2 linked regions of the Homo sapiens genome follow. The protein of the gene in region 1 purifies or fractionates together with the protein of each later gene. This does not show direct contact. Each region holds a gene or a part of one and is shown in the gene's direction. Other genes may lie near its edges. The genes, in order: RBAK and CYP24A1.

What was found.
Region 2: the proteins of RBAK (region 1) and CYP24A1 purify together in Homo sapiens (affinity purification with mass spectrometry; one large-scale study listed by BioGRID and IntAct). This does not show direct contact.

What each region holds. Positions count from the first base shown.
Region 1 is NC_000007.14:5,066,299-5,070,122, forward strand, and holds the end of RBAK (RB-associated KRAB zinc finger protein), read left to right. Parts: 3' UTR 1-3,189; downstream 3,190-3,824. UniProt on the Homo sapiens protein: May repress E2F-dependent transcription. May promote AR-dependent transcription.
Region 2 is NC_000020.11:54,167,420-54,171,243, reverse strand, and holds part of CYP24A1 (1,25-dihydroxyvitamin D(3) 24-hydroxylase, mitochondrial isoform 1 precursor), read left to right. Parts: intron 1-1,555; coding exon 1,556-1,652; intron 1,653-3,824.

The sequences.
Region 1 (3,824 bases):
TTTACAAATGGGTTTTTAACAAATGCCTCATTAGTACAGGAGGCAGTCGTTTTGTAAAGTTTTCAACTGCATCTGAGTAAGATAAGATTTTCTAAAAGACTATTTTGATAAACTATACATACATAATTTGGAATTGTTTAAGTCTATTTCAGTGAAAGAGAACAAGCATACTGCCCATACTCTAAAATATCCCCAGCTCTCACACCACCCTTGTTTTTTAACCCATAGGTTTGAGTGTGCCTAGTGCCAATATTTTGTAATTTAGAAATTTTATTCACAAACTTCTGTTTGGTACAAATACAGTGTCATTGTTTTGTGCATTCTCCTTTTTCCCAGTATTTCAGAACAAATTGATTCAAGTTTCTAGCAGATATTTTTTGATCAATTAACTTAATGTCCTCGCTCCATTTCTTGCTGGAACAGTTTAGGTACCTACCACTTCTTCACATGACACAGGGGAATCCTGATTAGTCAAAATAATAATGATTTCATTCTCTTTGCCAGTAACTTGTTTTATAGTGGTCATATGACCTGATACTGGGTAAACAAAACAAAGATGGACTTGTTCTGGGAAAAGGTAAAATGGTAATCAAATAGATTGTGTTCCAGGAATGCAAAGGTGGCTTAATATTCACAAGTCAGTTGCTATTATACACCACCTGTAGAAAAGTAATCTGGCATGCAGAACATTCTTGTGGTACAATTAATGTTCGTTTATGATCTTAGCAAATGATGGATTGAAAGGGACTTACTTAACTGCATAAAGAGACTTAAACTACAACAAACAATATGCTTAATGATGAAATAGTGAACATTTCTCCTAAGATTATAAAAATAAGACAAGGATATCTGCTGTCAATGATTTTATTCGGCATTGTTCAGAAGGACCTAACCAGAAAACTAATGCAAGGAAGAGAAACAAAAGGCATAGAGATTAGAAAAGAAGTAAAACTTTAAAAACGAAAAAGAATATAAATCTCTATTTGCAGATGCCATGAGTAAATTTGGTAAGTTCCCTGCATAAAAGTTATGCAAAAAGCATTTTATGATATACCAGCAAAAAACATGGAAAATGAAATTTTGAAAAGCAATGCCACTTCAAAGATCCCTCAAGTGCCTAGAGGGAGAAAATGAGTTAATATGCTTTGAAGAACTGTATCCAGAAAATAAAATTACAAAGGAGGAGAGGGATAGGATTCCAGGACAATCTCAAAACTATTGCTTTTTCCTAAATTCATTGCAACCTTAAAATCCTAGCAAGTTCTTTAATGTAAATTAACAAGCTAATTCTAGAATTCATATGCATATTCAAAAGTCGAATAATTGTCAAGGCTATCCTGTAGAATGGACAGAGAGGATTGAAATTTCTAAATATCAAGACCTGTTATAAAGCCATAGAAATAATGAAGGTGTTAATTTGGCACAAGGATGAAAAAACTGACTAGTGGAACAGCATACAGATTCAAAAGTAGACCCACGTGTATACCATCACCTGAGTTTTGAGAAAGGTGACATTGAAGTGTAGTGGGGGAAAGGGTGTTCTTTCCAGTAAATGTACTTTGCCAATAAAATTTTGTAATTTGATAAAAAGTTATTTGGAGGTGGATTGCAGATCTGAATATGAAATGTGAAAGCTTTACAAAGAAATCTTAGGACAGTTTGTAATCTTGGAGTAAGCAAAGGTTTATTGAGACCCAAAAAGCATTAACCCATAAAATTAGAACTTAATATTAAATTTGAGAACTTCTATTTATCAGAAAGACCACCAGTAAGAAAATGAACAGGAAATCATGGGGAGGAGAAGATATTTGCAGTTCATGTATGTGACAACAGCACCGAGTATAGCAGAAGTGTTGGCAAACTTTATAAAGCAAGGCACCAGATGGTGAAAATTTTCAGCTTTGTCACAACTGCTCATCTTTGCTATTGTGTGAAAGCATCCATACACCATGCATTAAAAAAAAAATGAGCATGGCTGCTTCCCAGTAAAACCATTCACAATCCCAGGTGGCAGTCTGGATTTGGTCTGCACTCATAGTTTTCTGGTCCCTGATCTCGAATATGTAAAGAGCACCTACAAATCAACAAGGGGGAAACTGGAAAAGGCAAAAGACTTTAGAGGATATCCACTCACTTTAGAGGATATCCAGACGGCCAATAAGCATGAAAAGATGTGTTAGCTTTATTAGTAATCAGGGAAATGCAAACTTAAAACATGTAGCACTGCTACCCATCCATGGAAATGGTTAAAATGAAAAGCATGAAAAAGCATCACGTTTTGGCAAGGATGTAAGCAAGAGGAACTGTACACTACTGGTGGAATTGCTCATCGATAAAACCATTTTGAAAGCTGGCACTAAAAGCCAAGCATATGTATACTGTTTTACCCAAACCCAGCAAAAATGCATGTGTCTGTCCACCAAAGGACATGCACTAGAATATTTATAGCCTAAAACTGCACAAAACAGAACTATCTTAAGGCACATGTGCAATGGAATGAATAAAGAAGTGGCATATGTCCATGGAATACTGTAAAACAGTGAGCATGAATGAACTAGAAGTCCGTGTAATAACGCAGCTGAATTTAACAAACCTTGCTGAATGAAAGACTCCAGACACAAAAGCCAACATGCTGTATGATTCCTTCTATATAAATTATAAAGACGGGCAAAACTTGTATACGTGGTTTAAAATTAGGGTAGCAGTTAGCCTTGGCCAAGGCTGAAAGGGGGCATTTATCTGGTGCTGGGAATAATCTGTTTCTAAACCTAGGTGCTAAGTATTTGAGTGTGTTTTGAGCTGTGCACTTAAGATATGTGTATTTTTCTGCATGTGTGTTAAACTTTCCATAAAAGTTTTCTAAAATCACAAATGGCTAACATTTGTGTCGCTCATCACTCTAATCATATTTTTCTAGATGTGTATGAATATGCTGCACAACAGGAATTAAATGGCAGATTTTGCATAATTCTGTGCAGGAAATACATATTTATAGTAATTTTGATGGCAACTACTAAGATTTCCTACGCTGTCCTTAAAGCTTAGCATAATGTATATTTTAAGTGAAATATTTGAGAAGGTTAAAGAATCATTACATACTTTGTCATCCTATACTTTTGCATATATAAATAGGTCTGAGCTGCCTCTTCAATAAAGAAGCTAATGTGTAACATTTCATATTTCCCTAAACAAATTGTTTTTTGCATTTCTGAATTCGGGATTCATCTTAACTTTTACTGTAGGGGTGACCTTTCTTGGCAGTGAATGAATATAATGCTGAGTTGGATTTGATGGAAAATTATTTTAAAAGTATTCAGCTAAATATTTGAGCAAATCTCAGATACACAGTTAACAGCCCAGATGTAAGTGAGTGAAAGAAACAGGTCAGCAAAACTTTGCACCATTGAAAAAAAAAAAACACTTTGGGTGAGGGCTGGCTGAGCTTGTAAAAGCACAGCAAGAAGGACGTGACATTGGATGGCATAGACTGTGTGCCTCTTTTTTTTTTTTTTTTTTTTTTTTGGTGGGAAGGCATTTGTTTTTTGTTTTTCTTTCTCTTATTTTTAGAGTCAAGTTCTCACCACAGCCTGCAGTGCAGTGGTGCAATCACAGCTCACTGCAGCCCCGACTTTCTGAGCTCAAACGAGCCTCCCACCTCAGCCTCCTGGGTAGCTGGGACTACAGGTGCATGCCCCCACACCTGTCTAATTTTTTTATTTTTTTCGTAGAGACAGCGTCTTGCTGTGTTGCTGGACTCAAACTCCTGGGCTTAAGTGGTCCACCCAACTTGGCCGCCCAAAGTCCTGGGATTCCAGGAGTGAGCC
Region 2 (3,824 bases), on another chromosome or scaffold:
TTTCCCCATCTACAAAATGGGAGTAACAGTTCCCACCCCACGGGTTTGCTGTGAGAATTAAATGAGATAACATTGTAAAGTTCTTAAGTAGTGATATTTGAGCTGGGTTTTGCAGGAGGAGTCTGAAAGCAGAGAAAGTGGGGGAAGGCATTAAGGCAGACAGAGTAGCCTTCTGAAAACAGGGAGGCATGAAATGACGTGGTGTGTTCAGAGAATCGGTCATTTAGTGTAGCTGATGTGAGGCTTTCTCTGAAATGATACTGGATAGGTCTTAACAATATTTTTGTATTATACTAAGGTATTTGGACATTATCCCTTAGCCAGCACGGAGTCAAAGGGAGTTTTAAGCATAAAGTAATCTCTTTTTACTTCTGTTCACTTTGGATGTTTATTTTGAACTGGATGCGTCCCCAGATGGGATCATATAGGTGAAGGATTGCAAACTCAGAAGCTTCCAGGGCTCACATGACTAATATAAAATAATAAGGCAGACCCAGTAAAAATTTCAGGAAACGTGATAGTGCATGCCCCTCCCAGGAGGGACAGCAGCCCCAGTTCCAGCAAACGAATGCCATGTCAGAATGCAGACCTCATGTCACCAAGTCTCATAATTATTATTTACATTTTTAAACTAGTAGTGGTAAATCCATATGTTCATATGAAACCTCTTGTTTTTTTTAATGGTAACAAATTCAAAGAACTTTTAAATGCGCTATGCGGGCAAATTAAACTTGCAAACTAAATCCACACATGTGGGCTGTATGGCCACACCAGCTCACGGCAGGGTCCAGGATGGCAACTTATCAGCTCTGTGTGCATAAGTGAGTGACTTGGCCTCTTTAAGCCTCAGCTTTCTCATCTACTACATGGGAAATGAGTAGAGACGGTACCTACTACTACTTGGTTGTCAGAGGATCAACCAATACACTTCGTACAGTGTTTGGTACCATATGGACCTCATTAAATGTGAGGCATTAGTTATTGAAAACTCTGGTTTATGAAACTGGCATCCAAAGGTCTTATGTGACTATCCCAAGGTCATAGACTACTTAGGGAAGGAGCTGTGTCCAGAATTGGTAGATCTTCTGGTTCCAAGTTCAACATGCTTAACATAACCACCAACCAATAAAGAGACGTTTGCTTGCCCAGATGTGGAAGGGCACACCTCAGGATAGCTGCTGCAACACAATCCTTGAGATGCTGGGCCAACAGGGACAGTTAGCTGATTCCTTTGTGGTTTTATTCCCCCATTCTGATTAGAAAAAAAAAATGTTTTCCTTTTCTTAAATTGCCAGAATTATTTTTAGATCAAAAGCTGAAACTTAAGCTTCAGGGTGGCTTCAGGAAAAGCTCAGGAAATAACCCAGGACGAGGTCATTAGGGGATAAGGTGGGTTCCCAGGGAGAATATATAATTAGTGTGACTTCAGGATGAATAACATTATGGCCAGTGAATATGCGATGTAGCAAGACCTGAAGTTAGCTCAGTGAGCTTTAAAGTTTTGTTTTCCTTCAACGGCTTTAAAATGTGTCTTTTGCGGTTGTTTTCTTTGAAGGTCTTGGCCGATTTTATGGGCAGAATAGATGAGCTCTGTGATGAAAGAGGCCACGTTGAAGACTTGTACAGCGAACTGAACAAATGGTCGTTTGAAAGTAAGTTGTCGTCACAGACTTGCTCACTGATTTTGCAGGTGATTTTGCGGATAAAACATGGCTCTTTTGACAACTCTTTTGTAAACAGGCATTATTGCTGCCTAGGGAAAGGCCAGAGCAGCCCTTTTAATGCTTCTTTTAGGTGCTTAAGTTATGCCTTGAACTATGGATTGTTAATGAGTCATACAACAAACATTTGTTGAATACTTGCTGTGTGTCTGGCACTGTGCTAGGTACTAGGGATATGACAATGAATGAAACGCATAACCCCTGTACCCTTGGGGAGCTTATATGCTAGACAAGGTGACAGTCAACAAGTAAACACATTTTAAAATATACTCTTCCAAGGAGTAAAGGAAAAGAGAAAGGGAGTTAAGAAAGAACATGAAAGGCAGGCATGGTGGCACATGCCTATAATCCCAGGACTTTGGGAGGCTGAGGTGGGCAGATCGCTTGAGGCCAGCCCAGGAATCTGAGAACAGCTTGGGCAACACAGCAAAACCTTGTCTCTACAAAAAATACAAAAATTAGTCAGGGTTGGTGGCACATGCCTGTAGTCCCATCTACTTGGGAGGCTGAGGTGGGAGGATTGCTTGACCCCGGGACGCTGAAGCTAAAGTGAGCCGTGATTGTACCACTGCATTGCAGTCTGGGTGACAGTGTGAGACCCCGTCTCAAGAAAGAGAGAGAGACAGAGAAAGGAAGGAAGGAAGGAAGGAAGGAAGGAAGGAAGGAAGGAAGGAAGAAGGGAGGGAGGGAGGGAAGGAAGGAAGGAGGGAGGGAGGGAGGGAGGGAAGGCAGAAGGGAGGGAGGGAAGGAAGGAAGGAGGGAGAGAAGGAAGGAAGGAAGGAGGGAAGGAAAAGAAAAAGAGAAAGGAAAGAAAAAAGAAAAGAAATAAAGAAGAAAAGAGAGAGAGAGAAAGAAATAACATGAAAGAATGAAAGAGGGGCAAGTCTTTTTTAGTAAGAAGACATTTGAGGTAAGTCCTAAAGGAAGGGAAGGAGCAAATCATGAGGGTACCTGTGGAGGATTGTTCCAGGCAGCAGAGAAGAAAGTGCAAATGCCAGGAGGTGGAAGCATGAGCGCCGAGTTTGAGGAACTTCAAGCTGCTGGTGTGAGTGGATCACGATGAACAAGCTGGGAGGAAGGGGAGCCTGTGAAAGGAGATGAGGTCAAAAAGAAGGCAGGTGTCCAACAGGGCACAGCTCATAGGTCCTGGCAAGACTTTACCTCTCATCTGACTCAGATGGGGCAAGTAAGGGAGGGAGGACATGACCGCTTTCTTCAAAGATTACTCTGGAAATAAAGGGCAGAGCTCACTGCCCATGGGGGTGCAAGAGGAGAGCAGGCAGCTGTGATCAGGTGGGACAGCGCCTGGCTGAGGACATTCAGGGCTGTGGGAGAATCTGAGAGGGCCACCTAAGCCGGACATGGCCAGGGGTCGCTTCACAGAGATGGTGCCCCTCAGCTAAGTCCTGATGGTTGAGTAGGAGTTCACCAGGTGAAAAGGGAGGAAGGAGAGTGTCCCTGCAGAAGAAGTGCGGAATGACAAGCATATCCTGTAACAGAGGCTGGCAGAGGGCCAGCAGCCAGCTCATGGAGGGCTGTATGAGCGGGAGTTTGAATTTTAGCCTGTAAGTAACCGGGAGCTGCGGGAATGTATTCAGCAGCAGTGTGATATATGGGCAGATTTACTGGGAGGATCACTGTGGCTGCTGATGGGAGGGATAGAAGGAAAACCTATAACACTTCCATAAATTCAAGGTCAGAAATATTGCCATAAATAGATAAATATAAGTAACTTTTTTTAATTACTTATTTGAGACAGACTCTCACTCTGCCCCAGGCTGGAGTGCAGCGGCGTGATCTCGGCTCACTGCAACCTCCACCTCCTGGGTTCAAGCGATTCTCCTGCCTCAGCATCCTGAGCAGCTGGGACTACAGGTGCACACCACCATGCCTGGCTGATTTTTGTGTTTTTTAGTACAGATGGGGTTTCACCATGTTGCCCAGGCTGGTCTCGAACTGCTGACCTCAGGTGATCCACTTACCTCAGCCTCCCAAAGTGCTGGTATTGCAGGCGTGCGATACCACGCCTGACTAACTTTTGTGTTTTTTAAGTAGAGATGGGGTTTTGCCACCGGTTGGTCTCAAACTCCTGACCTCAGATGA